Homo sapiens: one gene and its partner. The protein of the gene in region 1 binds, or shares a complex with, the protein of each later gene. Each region holds a gene or a part of one and is shown in the gene's direction. Other genes may lie near its edges.

Evidence for each region. Proteins that work in one complex are often made in the same cells at the same time.
Region 2: the proteins of PTPN6 (region 1) and KLRC1 are in contact, whole or in part, in an NMR structure (PDB 2YU7), measured with the Homo sapiens proteins. Residues at the interface, in NP_002822.2 of Homo sapiens: Gly117 (codon at 969), Gly118 (codon at 972), Glu121 (codon at 981), Arg136 (codon at 1,026), Ser138 (codon at 1,032), Leu139 (codon at 1,035), Ser140 (codon at 1,038), Val146 (codon at 1,056), Thr165 (codon at 1,113), His166 (codon at 1,116), Ile167 (codon at 1,119), Lys168 (codon at 1,122), Val178 (codon at 1,308), Gly179 (codon at 1,311), Gly180 (codon at 1,314), Leu181 (codon at 1,317), Glu182 (codon at 1,320), Ile199 (codon at 1,371), Glu200 (codon at 1,374), Glu201 (codon at 1,377), Ala202 (codon at 1,380); in NP_002250.2 of Homo sapiens: Ile38 (codon at 7,210), Thr39 (codon at 7,213), Tyr40 (codon at 7,216), Ala41 (codon at 7,219), Glu42 (codon at 7,222), Leu43 (codon at 7,225), Asn44 (codon at 7,228), Leu45 (codon at 7,231), Gln46 (codon at 7,234), Lys47 (codon at 7,237).

What each region holds. Positions count from the first base shown.
Region 1 is NC_000012.12:6,953,859-6,961,430, forward strand, and holds the end of PTPN6 (tyrosine-protein phosphatase non-receptor type 6), read left to right. Parts: intron 1-946; coding exon 947-1,136; intron 1,137-1,292; coding exon 1,293-1,409; intron 1,410-1,513; coding exon 1,514-1,627; intron 1,628-1,801; coding exon 1,802-1,898; intron 1,899-2,283; coding exon 2,284-2,363; intron 2,364-2,560; coding exon 2,561-2,710; intron 2,711-3,795; coding exon 3,796-3,927; intron 3,928-4,060; coding exon 4,061-4,215; intron 4,216-6,068; coding exon 6,069-6,136; intron 6,137-6,229; coding exon 6,230-6,381; intron 6,382-6,485; coding exon 6,486-6,577; intron 6,578-6,804; coding exon of another isoform or gene 6,805-6,947; coding exon 6,948-7,062; 3' UTR 7,063-7,087; intron 7,088-7,267; 3' UTR 7,268-7,458; downstream 7,459-7,572. UniProt on the Homo sapiens protein: Tyrosine phosphatase enzyme that plays important roles in controlling immune signaling pathways and fundamental physiological processes such as hematopoiesis.
Region 2 is NC_000012.12:10,450,214-10,458,254, reverse strand, and holds the start of KLRC1 (NKG2-A/NKG2-B type II integral membrane protein), read left to right. Parts: upstream 1-4,877; 5' UTR 4,878-5,057; intron 5,058-7,067; 5' UTR 7,068-7,098; coding exon 7,099-7,285; intron 7,286-7,675; coding exon 7,676-7,771; intron 7,772-8,041. UniProt on the Homo sapiens protein: Immune inhibitory receptor involved in self-nonself discrimination.

The sequences.
Region 1 (7,572 bases):
TGGGACAGACTGGTCCTCCCCTCCTTCCCCCCATCCCTGCGGTTGGAAAATTTGCCCGCCCTCCCCTCGTCCCTGGGCTGAGGAAACCTCACAACCTCACTTCTCACTCTCTCCCCAGAAGGAGTTTTGTGTTTTTTCCATCACGTGGTTTCCTGTGGGGCTGGGCTTTGTGGGGCTACAGTTTCCTCCTGGGAAAGGGGTGTGCTTCGGGGAAAGGGCTTAGTTCTGCTTTCTGCCCTGACAGCCCCTTCAAATCCGTTTGAACCCTGGGCTCCCCTTCAGTGACATCATCCAGGGCACCCCAGAACCCCCTACACCACTCTTTCCCCAGTGGGGTTGTCTTCCCCGCCTCCCTGGCGGAGCGCACCCCATCCGCCTTCCTTGTGACTTGAGTCTGTGTGTCCATCTCCCACCACTCCCTGTGGTGTGGCCTCGGTCTGCGTTTCTCTTTGCCTCTGGTCTCTGCTGGGGCACAGTCCCATCCTTCACGGAGATTCATCCTTAGCTTCTCTCCTCCAAATATTTTGAATATTGCCAGCCTTTCTGCCTTTCAGAGGTGGGCTCTGGGTTCGAAGCCCGGTTAGAACTCTGGAGGCTAGGATGGCTTGAACCTGGGAGGTCGAGGCTGCAGAGAGCTGTAACCGCGCCACTGCACTCCAGCCTGGGCAACAGAGCTCTGGAAGCTTGCCCTAGAGTCAGTCAAGGGCCCTAGGCCAGTGAGTAACAGCTCAGCGTCAGTTTCCTCATCTATAAAATGGGGGTAATATCATACCTAGCTCTCAGCATGTTTGTGAGAGACCTAAATGAGGTGGTGGATTTGGAAGCATGTAGCGCAGTGCCTGGCACACAGTAGGTGCTTGATTTCCGGCCCCTCTCTGTGAATGTCTCTGCTCAGCGCCTTCCCCTGTGGCCTGGGTCTTACCTTCCCTGACGCTGCCTTCTCTAGGTGGTACCATGGCCACATGTCTGGCGGGCAGGCAGAGACGCTGCTGCAGGCCAAGGGCGAGCCCTGGACGTTTCTTGTGCGTGAGAGCCTCAGCCAGCCTGGAGACTTCGTGCTTTCTGTGCTCAGTGACCAGCCCAAGGCTGGCCCAGGCTCCCCGCTCAGGGTCACCCACATCAAGGTCATGTGCGAGGTAAGGCAGCCAGGCGGCGGGGGAGCCTCTGCTGAGGCTCCTGTCTGTGACCACAGTGTGGGTGGCAGGGAGGGTCTGCCTGGGCTTGAATTCAAGGCTGGGGACCCAGGGAGGGAGACTCAAGTCCTGTGAATGGCCTAATTTGGCTCCCCCCAGGGTGGACGCTACACAGTGGGTGGTTTGGAGACCTTCGACAGCCTCACGGACCTGGTGGAGCATTTCAAGAAGACGGGGATTGAGGAGGCCTCAGGCGCCTTTGTCTACCTGCGGCAGGTCAGGGGTGGGCCCAGCTGCCTCCCCACTTCCCCTGAGCTGTCCCCCAGATGTGAGCTTCTGGGATCTCTGAGTTGCTGACTTCTCGCTCTTCCCCACCCCAGCCGTACTATGCCACGAGGGTGAATGCGGCTGACATTGAGAACCGAGTGTTGGAACTGAACAAGAAGCAGGAGTCCGAGGATACAGCCAAGGCTGGCTTCTGGGAGGAGTTTGAGGTGCATGGTGGGGACCGGCAGGGCTGGGGCAGCTGAGGTGGTGGCAGCGGCCTGGGGCCCCAGGCGGACACCTTCCCCTCCTTGCCCACCTCTGCTCCTGACCCACCCCACGTGAGCTCCCCCGATGGATGCCCTCTTTGGGAGCTGATGCTCATTTCCCCACCCACATCTCAGAGTTTGCAGAAGCAGGAGGTGAAGAACTTGCACCAGCGTCTGGAAGGGCAGCGGCCAGAGAACAAGGGCAAGAACCGCTACAAGAACATTCTCCCCTGTGAGCACCCAGGCTGCCCCATTCACCCAGGATACCGCCCCTGCCCCAGCTGCCTCCCCTCATCTCACAGGTCTCCACCCTCCACGCCAGGAGGGGCCATCTCCCCACACCCCCCACAGAGCCTCCCCCTTCTCCAAAAGGCCTCTACTCCTCCCAGAAGTGCCTCCCCACCACCAGCAGGCAGGTTGCCCCCTGCTCCCAACCTCCTTGTGAACTCCCTCACTCCCTCCATACAGATGATCCCCCACCCCTGCTGCCCACAGTCCCCCGCAAGCCTCATGGCTTCTGAGACCAGAATGGCCTGTTAGCTCAGGAGGGTCTGACCCAGGTGTGGTGAGTCCCTGGCTAACCCAGACCATCTCGCCTCCTCTCCGCCCACTCCCAGTTGACCACAGCCGAGTGATCCTGCAGGGACGGGACAGTAACATCCCCGGGTCCGACTACATCAATGCCAACTACATCAAGGTCAGCAGTGTGGGCCACGTGGGAGGAGAGGCTGGGCCCTGGGAATTCCCTGTCTGGTGGGGGGACCCTAGATCCAGAGACAGCTGGGCAAAGCCGAAGCTGGCTTCTTGCATGGGTGAGGGTGGCAGTGGTTCAGGGCCTGTGCTGGGCCAAGGGGCTCACTGTCTTGGGGTGCGTCTCTCCACGCTTGCGTCCAGAACCAGCTGCTAGGCCCTGATGAGAACGCTAAGACCTACATCGCCAGCCAGGGTTGTCTGGAGGCCACGGTCAATGACTTCTGGCAGATGGCGTGGCAGGAGAACAGCCGTGTCATCGTCATGACCACCCGAGAGGTGGAGAAAGGCCGGGTAGGGCGCCCCCCCTTCCCCGCATCCGCCCCCGTGCTTGTGGTCATGCCATTAAGTCGAAGAGCAGTCAGATGCCAGGGCAGAAAGGGATCTCAGGGGTGAGGGTCCGGCCCTTGTTGGGAAACTGAGGGCTAGTGACAAAGTCTCGACTACACAACGTGACCCCCAGATCCCTGCATGCATCCCTGGGCTCTTCTGAGCTCCAGACCCAGGTTCCAGGCTGTCCTCCTTCCTCCTACCCCTGCCCCACCTGTCTGCATCCAGGCCCCTCCTGTCCTCCCTGCCCCATAGATCTCTCTGGAGTCTGCCCCTTACCCTGCAGGCTCCCCCTACACAGCACCCTCTGTGCTGCCATTGAAGTGATCCCATCCGTGACACAAACTGGGTCAAGTTCCTTCCTTTCTGAAATCTCTTCCATGGCTCCTGGTCACCTTTGGGATAAAGTCGCACTCTAAGGCCTGGCATTCAAGGTCTGGTGGCTTCCCTCTGACCCGCACGCTTCTCTTGAAGGCTCACCGCCCCCAGCAGCCCCAGCTCTTTCAGGTTCCCAGCCTTTCTTTGCACAAGCTCATTTTCTGCTAGGAAATGACTCTCTCCACACTATCTCTGCCTGGCAGATGCCTCGTTTTTGAAGACACAGCCGGAGCGCTGCCTCCTCTGTGAATCCAGGTCTTGTTTCCTCCAGGACCTAGAGGGAGAATTACGTCTTTCCCAGCCACGCTCCTCAGCGCGGTGTCTCCCCCGGTCACCTGTCTCTGTGAGCTCCTCGAGGCACAGGGGCACAGACTGGGTGTTATTTGTGTCTGTGAAGCTGTGTGGTTTGCACAGCTTCGGGGACAATGCCTGCCCTGGCAACGTTTGTTGAATGACAAACGGATGTACCGGTGAAGTGGCTGGCCAGGCCTCACCACCTGTTGGTGGTTGATCTGAGACGAGAGCCCAGGTCTCCTGCCTCTCTGCCAGCCCATCCGTCCATCCAACAAATGTTTGGGCCGGTGCCAGGCACTCAGAACATAGAGCAGGACCTGGGATGGGCCACAGTGCCCTGCTCTGTGCCTCATCCCCACCCGACCCTCCCTTTCCAGAACAAATGCGTCCCATACTGGCCCGAGGTGGGCATGCAGCGTGCTTATGGGCCCTACTCTGTGACCAACTGCGGGGAGCATGACACAACCGAATACAAACTCCGTACCTTACAGGTCTCCCCGCTGGACAATGTGAGTGGCCCCCACGCCCTGCCCCATTCCGGGAGTCCCTCCCTGGACTTGTTCTCCTCTCTGGTCGGGTAGGGTGAGATGGATGAGGTGTTCCGAGAGAGGAGGGGGCACTGACCCTATGTCCTCGGCTTAGGGAGACCTGATTCGGGAGATCTGGCATTACCAGTACCTGAGCTGGCCCGACCATGGGGTCCCCAGTGAGCCTGGGGGTGTCCTCAGCTTCCTGGACCAGATCAACCAGCGGCAGGAAAGTCTGCCTCACGCAGGGCCCATCATCGTGCACTGCAGGTGAGGATGATAATCCTGATGGTAGTAGTGACAGCTGAGAAGTAAATACTGCTAAGTGCCATGAGCTGTTATAAGCAATATAAACGTTAGCTCGCACATTGAGTGCCCTCCGCTCACCCCCGGCTTCTCCTGGGTCCCCTCATGGCTCCAGAACCCTGGGTGGATCGTGGCTGGAACCAGCCCCACTTTGGCCCTCTGCCTGTGGGTATCTTCCTCAGAGCCCTCTCCGGATGTACCATCTCGCCCAACCCTGCCAAATACAGAGGAGGAGCCCGGGACCCAGTTGCTGGCCAGGCCCAAGCTAGTCAGGGCAAGGCCGGGCAGGCACCCACAGTAGGCCTGTGTCCCGGCTGCTCCGCTTTCTCTCGAGGTCCCATTCTGTTGGTTTCTTCTCCCAGGAACATCTATGAGGCATGTGCTCCCCATTCCTCCTCTTTTTCCATCGGTAGCCGCAGGGCTTCGGCTTCTTCCTGACTCTGCCCTCTCTCCCAGCTTCCCCAGGCAGTGCCCCATCCTGGCCCCCAGGGCTGTGTGGGGATGGGTGATGCTTCTTTGGGGCTGCACATAACTCCTCTGTCTATCTACCCGCATGTTTGTGATCAGGAGACCTCTGGTAAGGTGCAGAGGTGGGGGCTGCAAGGAGGAGCAGGGGTTCCACAGGTGAGCCCACTGAGCTGGCCTGGCCTGGGTGGATGAGAGGCAGTGGGTGCAGGGCCCCTCCGCTTACCAGCTGTGTGGTCTTGGACAAATTACTTAACTTTTCTAACCCTCAGCTTCCTCATCTGTAAAATCAGGATCTCAGGGTTGTCGTGAGAACTCAATGAGACCCTATCGTTGTGGCTGGAATTCCGTCAGCCCTCAAAAACTGGGCGCTGTTACTAGTTTAGTAACTCACATCAGGCAGAGAATAGGGGAATGGGAACCTGCCTTGCCCCGGTCCCTTCCCACTCCCTCCGTGGACCCCAGGCCTGCGACGGCCTCTGGCTTCCTCCTCTTCCCCCAGCAGCTGTTTGTCCTGGGACAGGGCAAGTCGGCTGAATCTAGAGGTGCCCCCGATGGGCTGTCCGGGGACGCGGCTCTGTCCTGTGCTCTCTCAGGGACAGGCCCATCCCCGAGAGCTACCCTCCTGCTCACCCGCCACACACACATTCACACACTTCTTGAAAGCCCCATGGCCTTTATTTAGACGTTACAGGAAGGAAGTGGGTGTGGGGGGTTATTTTTGACAATCTGGGTTTGAAATTAGACAGCGCGACTCAGGGCATCAGCTTGCTGGGCTCAGCTGAGGGTGGGCCTGGGGTCTCCCTGAGGTCTGTTTGCCCAGGGCTGGGAAAGGAGAGAAACTTCCTACTGCACTGCTCCCCTGAGTCCCCTGACCCTGTGCCCCCGCACCCTGCTGTCTCAGGGCTATCCTTTCCCTGACGTCAGGGTTTGAAGGAAAAGGGAAGTGAAGCCATGCTGAGAGACGCTCCATAACTCCTTCAGGGAGAGGCGGGGAGGGCTCAGGGTACCTGGGAGCCGGCAGGACAGTGGTGGGATTTGGGGGTCCCAGGTCTTCCGGGGTGGGGGCAGCCACTCACTAGGAGTGAGGAGTCGGCGCGAGGAGTGGAGGAGGGAAGGATGGTGGCAGCTGGGGAGCCAGCGTCAGCACCGCAGAGCCCGAGGTGGAGCGTGTCCATGCAGAGCTGGGCAAACCTCCATCATCACTTGCCCGGTGACCCTGGGCACATTCCCTCCCATCACTGGAGGCTCAGGCTGCTCCTGTGGTGCCTGGGGCTGGAGCTGAGCGCTGGGTACCCCCCTTCCCGGGGAGGGCTTGACTGGCCTCTGATGGCACCCCCGTCTTTCCCCAGCGCCGGCATCGGCCGCACAGGCACCATCATTGTCATCGACATGCTCATGGAGAACATCTCCACCAAGGGTGAGGGGCACCTGGGGGTTTGGGGGTGGGGGGTGAGCAGCCCCTCGGTGTCCGCCTATGCCTGGACCTGAGGTTTGACTGCCCCCCACCCAGGCCTGGACTGTGACATTGACATCCAGAAGACCATCCAGATGGTGCGGGCGCAGCGCTCGGGCATGGTGCAGACGGAGGCGCAGTACAAGTTCATCTACGTGGCCATCGCCCAGTTCATTGAAACCACTAAGAAGAAGCTGGAGGTCCTGCAGGTGCGTGCAGAGCAGGGCCTGGGGGGGGGGGGGGCTGCAGTGCAGGATGGGTGCCACCTGGCCCTGCTGGGACCACCACCTTCCCACTGTCCCTCTGCCCACAGTCGCAGAAGGGCCAGGAGTCGGAGTACGGGAACATCACCTATCCCCCAGCCATGAAGAATGCCCATGCCAAGGCCTCCCGCACCTCGTCCAAGTGAGTGGCCCTGACTGCCACTGCCCGGCATCCACCCCTTTGTCCTGCCCAGCCCGATCCTCACTTTCTGGAGAGGACAAGTGTTGCAGCTGGGGGGACCTGGCTTCAAGTTCAGGCTTGGTTCTCACCCCTTCTGTTCATAAGCATTTCCTGAGTGCCCACACGTGTGGGCCTCTGCTAGGTACCAGCAGCGCACTCGTGTATGAGATGTAGCCTCTGTCCTCTAGGAGCTTGGAGTCTAGTGCAGGGACCGTGGCTGCGTCACCTGTGAGACGGGGTGGCCAGAGGGGACTGCCAGTGCCGGGTCCCCCTGTGCTGTCTCCTGACCTGCACCAACTGCCTGTACTTGCCCCCCTGCACCCGGCTGCAGACACAAGGAGGATGTGTATGAGAACCTGCACACTAAGAACAAGAGGGAGGAGAAAGTGAAGAAGCAGCGGTCAGCAGACAAGGAGAAGAGCAAGGGTTCCCTCAAGAGGAAGTGAGCGGTGCTGTCCTCAGGTGGCCATGGTACAGCTCTTCTGCCTGGGTGTCCTCCCTGCCCTGCCCTGTGTCCTTGGCTCCACTGCCTTCCCTGGGTGGATGGGGTGGCCGCAGCCTCATTCTGTGCTTCCCAGCTGCCCCAGACCCTCTTGTTCCACCTCCAGGTTCCAGCTACCCTCTCACTCCCTCACTCCCTTCTCTTGGCAGCCTCAGCCCTGACCCTGTGGAAGCATTTCGCGATGGACAGACTCACAACCTGAACCTAGGAGTGCCCCATTCTTTTGTAATTTAAATGGCTGCATCCCCCCCACCTCTCCCTGACCCTGTATATAGCCCAGCCAGGCCCCAGGCAGGGCCAACCCTTCTCCTCTTGTAAATAAAGCCCTGGGATCACTGTGTGTCGCCTCTGAGCCCTTTGCTTGCCCAGTGAGTGGGCGGCCAGAGGGCAGGGCAGGATGGGTAACTGTGTGTGCCTCCGTGCGTGCCTCGCGTGAAAGCTCCGCCTTCCGTCA
Region 2 (8,041 bases), 3.5 Mb from region 1:
ATGCTATGAAATCGCCTTGTTGTCTAGGGTAATATCTGAGGTTTGTTGTCCCATGACCACAGAAAACTAGGACGTGAACACACCAGAGTGAGGTTAAGACAGGAAGTTTAATGGGCAAAAGAAAGAGAAGAGATCTCTGCCCAGGGATGGGTACTGGAGAAATGGGTTGCTGCTTCTGCAGTGAAATGTAGAAGGTTTTATAGATGAGCTTGAGGGGGCAGTGTCTGATTTACATAGGGCACGAAAGATTGGTCGGACTAGGCATGCCATTTGCATAGCGCTTAAAGAAGCTGGCCACTCAACCCTAGTCTTTTATTATGCAGATGGTTGTCTACCTGGCCTGTGCCATGTTGCCTGGTTCTTTATTAGTGACAAAGAAAAGGGAAGATGGAGCCTCCAGGTTGAAAATGCCTGGCTTCCAGTCAGCCCCTTTTCTATTGGCACAGCTGCCAGCATGCACACATGCAAGTCTCCAGCCTGCTTATCTATGTCTGCTGCTTCATTTTTCAGGCTGCTCTTTGTTAGAAAAGAAGTTATTTGGGGCTGCTTTTTGTTAAAAGGGAAGCCTTGCTGAGAATTCCTTTACCCTCACTATCTGCCTAAATAATTTCTTTCTCGTTCCTGTATCACTAGTGTAACTGTCTAGCCATGTGCAGAAGAGTTAAAATGGACCCTTACCTTTCACCATATAGAAGAATTAACTCAAGATAATTAAAATTTTAAATGTGATACCTCAATCTGTAAAAATTTTAGAAGAACACCTAGGAAATACCTTTCTCAACATCAGCCTTGGCAAACAATTTTTTGGCTATGTCCTTAAAAGCAAGGGCAATAAAAACAAAAATTGACAAATGAGACCTAAACTAAAAAGCTTCTGCACAGCAAAATAAACTATTAATGAAATATACAGACAACCTACAGAGTGGGAAAAATTATTTGCAAACTATGCATCTGACAAAGGTCTAATATCCAGAATCTATAAGGAATTTAAACAGAACAACAAGGAAAAACAATAACCTCATTTAAAAATGGGCACAGGACATAAACAGACACTCCTTAAAAGAAGACATACAAGTATCCAGCAAGCATATTAAAAAACACTTATCATCACTAATCAACAGAGAAATGCAAATCAAAACCACAGTAAGATACCATCTTACACTAGTCAGAATGACCACTATTTAAAAGTCCAAAAACAACAGATGCTGATGAGGCTGCAGAAAAAAGAAAATGCTAATACACTATTGGTGGGAATGTAAACTAGCCTAACCGCTGTGGAAAGTAGTTTGGAGATTTCTCATAATACTTCAAACAGAGCTACCATTTGACCCTCAATTGCACTACTGGGAATATAACCAAATGAAAATAGATCATTATATCAAAAAGACGCATGCACTCACATTTTTATCACAGCACTATTCACAACAGCAAAGATATGGAATCAACTTATGTGCTCATCAGTGGTGGACTGGATAAAGAAAATGTGGCATATATACACCATGGACTAGTACTCAGCCATAAAAAAGATAAAACCATGTCCTCTACAGCAACATGGACAGAGCTGGAGGCCATAATCCTAAGCAAATTAATGCAGGAACAGAAAACCAACTACTGAAGGTTCTCACTTATAAGTGGGAGCTAAACACTGAGCACCCTTAGACGTAAATATGGGAACAAAAGACACTGCAGACTACTAGAGGGGAGAGGAGAGCAGGGAAGAATGGTTCAGAAAACTACCTACTTTGGATTATACTCACTATTCTGGTATAATATACCCATGTAACAAACCAGCACATGTACTCCCTGTATCTAAAAATAAAAGTTGAAAGAAAAAAAATTGGAAAAATTCTCAAGGACAGTTGACTGGCCAAAGATTTTTTGAGTAATACCCCACAATCACAGGAAACCAAAGCAAAAATGGACAAACGAGATCACATTAAGCTAAAAAATAAACAAAACCCCCCCACGAGATTCTCTTATCTTAGACTTTTGACAATTTGATTATATTATGCCTCATAATAGTCTTTTCTGGGCTGATCTTGCTCATGATTCATTGAGCTTCATGAATCTGGATTTCCATATCCTTCCCAAGTGAGGAAGGTTTTCAGACAGTATGTCTTTAAAGAAAAAATATTTTTGACTTTTTATGTCTCTCTTCTCCTTCTGAAGTTTCTATACTTTCTATACCATATTCTTGGTGGTGTCTCAAAGGTCTCATGCTTTCTTTGCCACTTTTTATTCTTTTTTTACTCTAATTTGTTAATTTTAAAAGACTCTTTTTTTGAGTTCACTAATTCCTCTGCATGATTGAGTCGGGCATTAAAACTCTCTATTGACTTATTTATTTCTTTCATTGTGTTCTTCAGCTCCAGAATTTTTGTTTGGTTCTTTTTAATAGTTTATATTTCTTTATTAAATTTTTATTTTGTTCATGTATTTTTTGTTTTAGTTGTATTTTTTGTTTACTCTTTTCTTTTGCATCTCACTGAGATTTTTTAAGATGATTGTTTTGAATTACTTTAAAGGAAACTTATAGATCTCCATTTATTTGGATCAGTTGCTAAAGCTTTATTAGTTTCCTTTGGTGGTGTCATATTTGTCTGATGCTTTGTTATTTGTTTATCCTTGTACTGATGTCTGTGCATTTGAAAGAGCAGACTCTCTTTCAGTCTTTACAGACTGGTTTCGGTAGGTTAAAAGCTTCTCCTGTTAGTGTCCTGGGCTGATGAGATTGCCTTCAGTATCATGGTTGAATGGGGTTACAGCCAGATCACATGGTTGCTTACGGGTCCAGAGTGGGATCTTTGGTTCATGATCCTTTTACTAGGGCTTCTAGCAGGCTTGTATCCTATTTAGTGCCTCAGAGGGCCAAACTGGCTCTAGAATCATACTGTATAGGGCTGGGGAGGGGATGAGGGTCCACTTCAAGGTCTGTAAATGGTGGGTCTATTATTAGGTGTGTAGTTGGGGAAGAGTTTATCTAGTTTGCTGGGAAGGCTGCTCATGGGTCTCTGAGTGGGTTCCTCAACCTGTGGCACAGAGGAGTTAGTGCTAAGTCACAAGGTTTCCTCGGGGTCTATAGCTGAAACCAGTGTCTTCATGTCTGTCTCTGGGGTCATGGTTGAGTGTGTTTTCTGGCAGGTCTGTGGGCAGGCAGATTTGCCTCAGACTGTAGTTGAGTTGGGCTGGAGCTGGATCCAGAATTGTTTCAAGATCTGAAATAAAACTAAGGTCTGTGCCTGCAGGGGCACTAATGATGTCTCTCTCCAGGTCCCTGTATGGGCAAACTGCTCTCTAGCATAGCTGAGAAGTGTCGAAGCCCCTTTTCTGTCCAATTAAAGGATCTGCTGTGAAACCTAGGTCAATGGTCTCCTAGTTGGGACATGGATGCACATGTCCTCCCTCTGTATCCCTGAGCTGGCAAGACTGCTCACAGTCCACAGCTGAGAAGGGTGAAGGTCAAGATTCAAGGCTGTTTCAGAAACTACCGTGGAACTGAAGTCAGCAAGCCTGTACTGCTGACAAAGATGATTGAGTCTCACAGCAATTTCCTGTGATTAACTCAGGTCACAGTTGAGAGGAGTTTGAGTGGAGATTCAGGGCCATTTTAGTATCTTCTGTAGGACAGAGGTCAGCAAGCATGCCCCAGAGGTACAGATGTATATGTCTCCCAGGAAGTCTCTGTGGGTGAAGGACTGATCTCAAGTTGTGGCTGACACTAGTTAAAGCCAAGTTAGAGGGCTGTTTCAGGGTCTACATTGAGACTACAGTTGATATGCCTACCTCCTGAGACACTAGTGTGTGAGTCTCCTCCTGGGCCCCTGGGCAAATGGTTTTGGCAGCATGACCAAGGCCTAAATGGGGCTGAAGGCAAGCACAGGAGGATGGGTCCCTTTTCAGGTCTGGAGATGGAATCACTGTTGGTAAGTCTGCCACTTGGATGCAAATCTATTCCCTAAAACAACCTTCCTAGGTCTTGGGTTCCACTGGCATTTTACAAACTCCTACTTGAATTCCAAACTCCCTCAAAGGAACTTTTGTCTGTGGATGGCTGAAAAATTATTGTTGCTGTGGGGGCATATGTGTGGGGGACCACCTATTCTGCCAATTTACTGACTTTCCTCCTAGTAAGATTTTAAAATTACTTTTTCCCCATACATAGTTTGACTTCAGTTTTTGTCATTTACAACTAAATATTTCTATGAAAGTCGACATAATTTGTTATGGCGGAGGATGAATAAATGAAGAATGTAATGAATAGCTATTTAATATTTCAATTTCTGGTATGCTAATATATTTCAAAATTGATTAATATTTTACCTATCCAAGATATTTTTATCAAGGGTAATCTGAAGATTAAATAATCTATTTTTAAAAATTAAGTGCAAAAATTTAAGAACTAAGAGAAGTTAATAATATAACTTTGGCAATGATGCTTTTTGTGCCAGCTACAATCAATTGAGTAATTACTGCAGTAATTTTTCAGAATAATTAAGGAAAAAATCAGTAGATATCAGTTGATAATATTACTATGAGTTTTAGAATGTTTTCTATTATAATGGAAGTGACATAATAAAATAATATAAAGAAAAGAAGTATGCAATGTTAAGATTTAGCAACCTAGTCTAAAAGGCACTCTTAACAAGGTGAGGGTTGACAATGTTCGTGATCAAGACAGAAAAAAAAAAAATTCTCATAGGCACTTGAAAAATGAACCAACTAAATGACACACTTTCAAAGTCAACCTTGTACTTTTAATAGACCAAGTATCCTATATTTTGGAGGTGTGTGATGAGATAAAACTGATTTCACAATAGCCCATGTGTAGAATTTCCTGTTCAAACCTTAGTAACACGTTGATGAGAAATCTACTTTTTCCACTCTTGACTCACTCTGAGCCTTCACAGGGCAGTCTGCGAAGATTGCAGGCATTGTTTGTTCTTGTCTTGGATTTATGCCTTTAAATTTCACCTTTTATTACACAGCTATAGCAGGCCTTTTTATGAGACTAACCTGGCCTCTCCACTAAAGGATGTGTGACTTTCTGGGGACAGAAGGTATGTATTGCTACTCTCCAACTCTCTACTAGCCTACCTCATTTAGTGGGTGATTTCAAGTGCTCAATATGATACAAAGGAGGTATAATTAATATACAATAAAATCAAAGTAGAATATTGCTGTCTTCATTTGAATAACTCAGGGTAAAAACCTAAAATATGAAATATGTTGAAGGATTTCTTAAAGTTTTCAAATTATTGTTTGTGGAAATCTAGTGGGTTTGTTGATCAATATCGTTTAAGGGAAAGCTATTAACATCACAATAATGAACAATTAATTTTGTATTTTGTAATCAGTACATCATGTATCTTTGAATAATAATTTATATTTAGCTTAGCCATTAAAGATTATTAAAATAAATCAATCAATTGATGAAAGCCAAATACAATTCCTCAGACACGTAGATTAGAGAAAAGCAGTTTTTATTTTTAATAAAAATCAGAATGAGGTAGATTACATAAAATGCTAAAGGTATTACAAAGCAATAAAAATACTTTTTAAAAATTGATCAAAATATTGCAAAAAAAGATGTAGCGCATGGACATAGGAGACTTATCTGAAGATTTATTTTCCATGCTTTAACTGACATGAATCAGAAACAGTAACATAACAATTGTGACTAAAATAATAATTAAAGTAGCTAATGCTTATTGAGAACTTTAAGTGCCAGGTTGAGTGGTAAATGTTTTACATGCAACGTTTTATATGTTCTTATGCCCATTTTAGATTAACAAACTGGGTTATTAAAAATAGAATAACTTTTTAAAGGTCGCACATTATAAGTGTCAAAGCTAGAATTAATTCTAGATCTCACTGACTCCAGAGCCCATTGACTAAATGATTTAATTACATTATCTGAAATTTTACAAGTACTTATACAACTAAAGTGGCCTTTACTCACTTTGACAACCATAAAATCATTCTATAAGTTTAAATGAAATGTGCTTTAACATGAATTACCTATACTTTTATTTATCATTTTTTGGTTCATAATTTAGCCAGGAAATAAATTACCAATTACTAATTAAATTACCAATACTTCTGTAAGTATTAACAATTTATGTAGTGTTCCTAATACTATTTAGGTTATGCATAAGTTAACTGTGTCACATAGCATTTTCTGTCATATACAAATATTTAATTTTTTATAATTTTTAATAAATAATTTTTAATAATTTCTTAGAACATTTCAGCCATTAAGAAAAGACCATTTAATTACCTCTATTGATTTTCATTAATGTGTATAAATTACTAATTAAAAGTAATGTAGTGCAAGAAATTTTTATATATATATATGTCAACTTTACTATTACTCATGTGCAGACCACATAGTCTTAACCATTACTGGATTTCAAAATTAACATAAAAATGAGTGCAGAAGTTTTTCTAATACAACATTTTAATTTTTAACACAGGTAAAACATCAGACTTTAAGAAATATATTTTTATTCCTGAACTTCTTTATTCCTTAGTAATTTATTGCTTCTCATTGCCCCAGCAATAATATTTTGTCAAATGCAGAAAATTTATCTTTTTTTTTTGAGTCGGAGTCTCACTCTGTCGCCCAGGCTGGAGTGCAGTGGCACAATCTCCGCTCACTGCAACCTCTGCCGCCCATGTTCAAGAGATTCTCCTGCCTCAGCCTCCCGAGTAGCTAGGACTACAGGCGCCTGACATCATGCCCGACTACTTTTTGTATTTTTAGTAGAGACGGAGTTTCACCGTGTTAGCCAGGATGGTCTCGATCTCCTGACCTCGTGATCGGCATGCCTCGGCCTCCCAAAGTGCTGGGATTACAGGCGTGAGCCACCGCGCCCGGCCTAAAAATCTTTTTTTAAAACAAATATTCATAAGAAACGTGTTTAGGCTTGAAGAAAATCAGAGAAAGAACTTTAGATTATTTAATGCAAAATGAGCTCCAATACTCGTTCTCCACCTCACCCTTTTAATTGCACTAGGGAATCCTGTATATAAACCATTTATTAACTTCTTAACTACTGTTATTATAGAGTACAGTCCCTGACATCACACACTGCAGAGATGGATAACCAAGGAGTAATCTACTCAGACCTGAATCTGCCCCCAAACCCAAAGAGGCAGCAACGAAAACCTAAAGGCAATAAAAACTCCATTTTAGCAACTGAACAGGAAATAACCTATGCGGAATTAAACCTTCAAAAAGCTTCTCAGGATTTTCAAGGGAATGACAAAACCTATCACTGCAAAGGTAAAGCATTTAAAAGATCCTCAATATAACAGTCTAGGATGTGCAGCTTGGGGTACAGGAATGTGGGGAAAGAGAAGGGAGTGCTCATATATCTTCTATTTGCAAAGATCAGAATTCCAAGTTGAGATATGCTATTTCAATGTAAAGTATGAAGACTGATTGAACTCATTGTTGAAGTTTGTAGTCTTTGTCAAATAATTCATGGAGCATTATTTTTCCTGAAAATTCAATGGTATATTATTCTGAGAAAAAGATTACAATGGGAGATGAGGGTTTGGGGTCCAAGTTTCTCTGTATGATTCCTGTGCATTCAGGTTCTCTTGTCTGTGAATCTTCTAAACGACTGTATCCACCTCTCCTTTCGCACTGTTCCCATTTCTCTCCCTGCAGATTTACCATCAGCTCCAGAGAAGCTCATTGTTGGGATCCTGGGAATTATCTGTCTTATCTTAATGGCCTCTGTGGTAACGATAGTTGTTATTCCCTGTAAGTCTATTTTCGAAGATTACAAGGGGAATTTTCACGTTAATGATTGAATGTGCCTCTAAACATTTCATATTTTCAGGGAATAGAGTTCTCATTGTAATGTATATATTTGGACTAAATGTGGAATGATTATTCTGAATTTGTCAAAGAATAAATGAAAGAATAATTGTTGAAAGTATTCGCTTCTGATGCAATCGTATGTATATATTTGGATTTCATAACTCAAAAATATGTTCTAGGAGTCTGAAAAACCTTACTGAGAAATAGAAA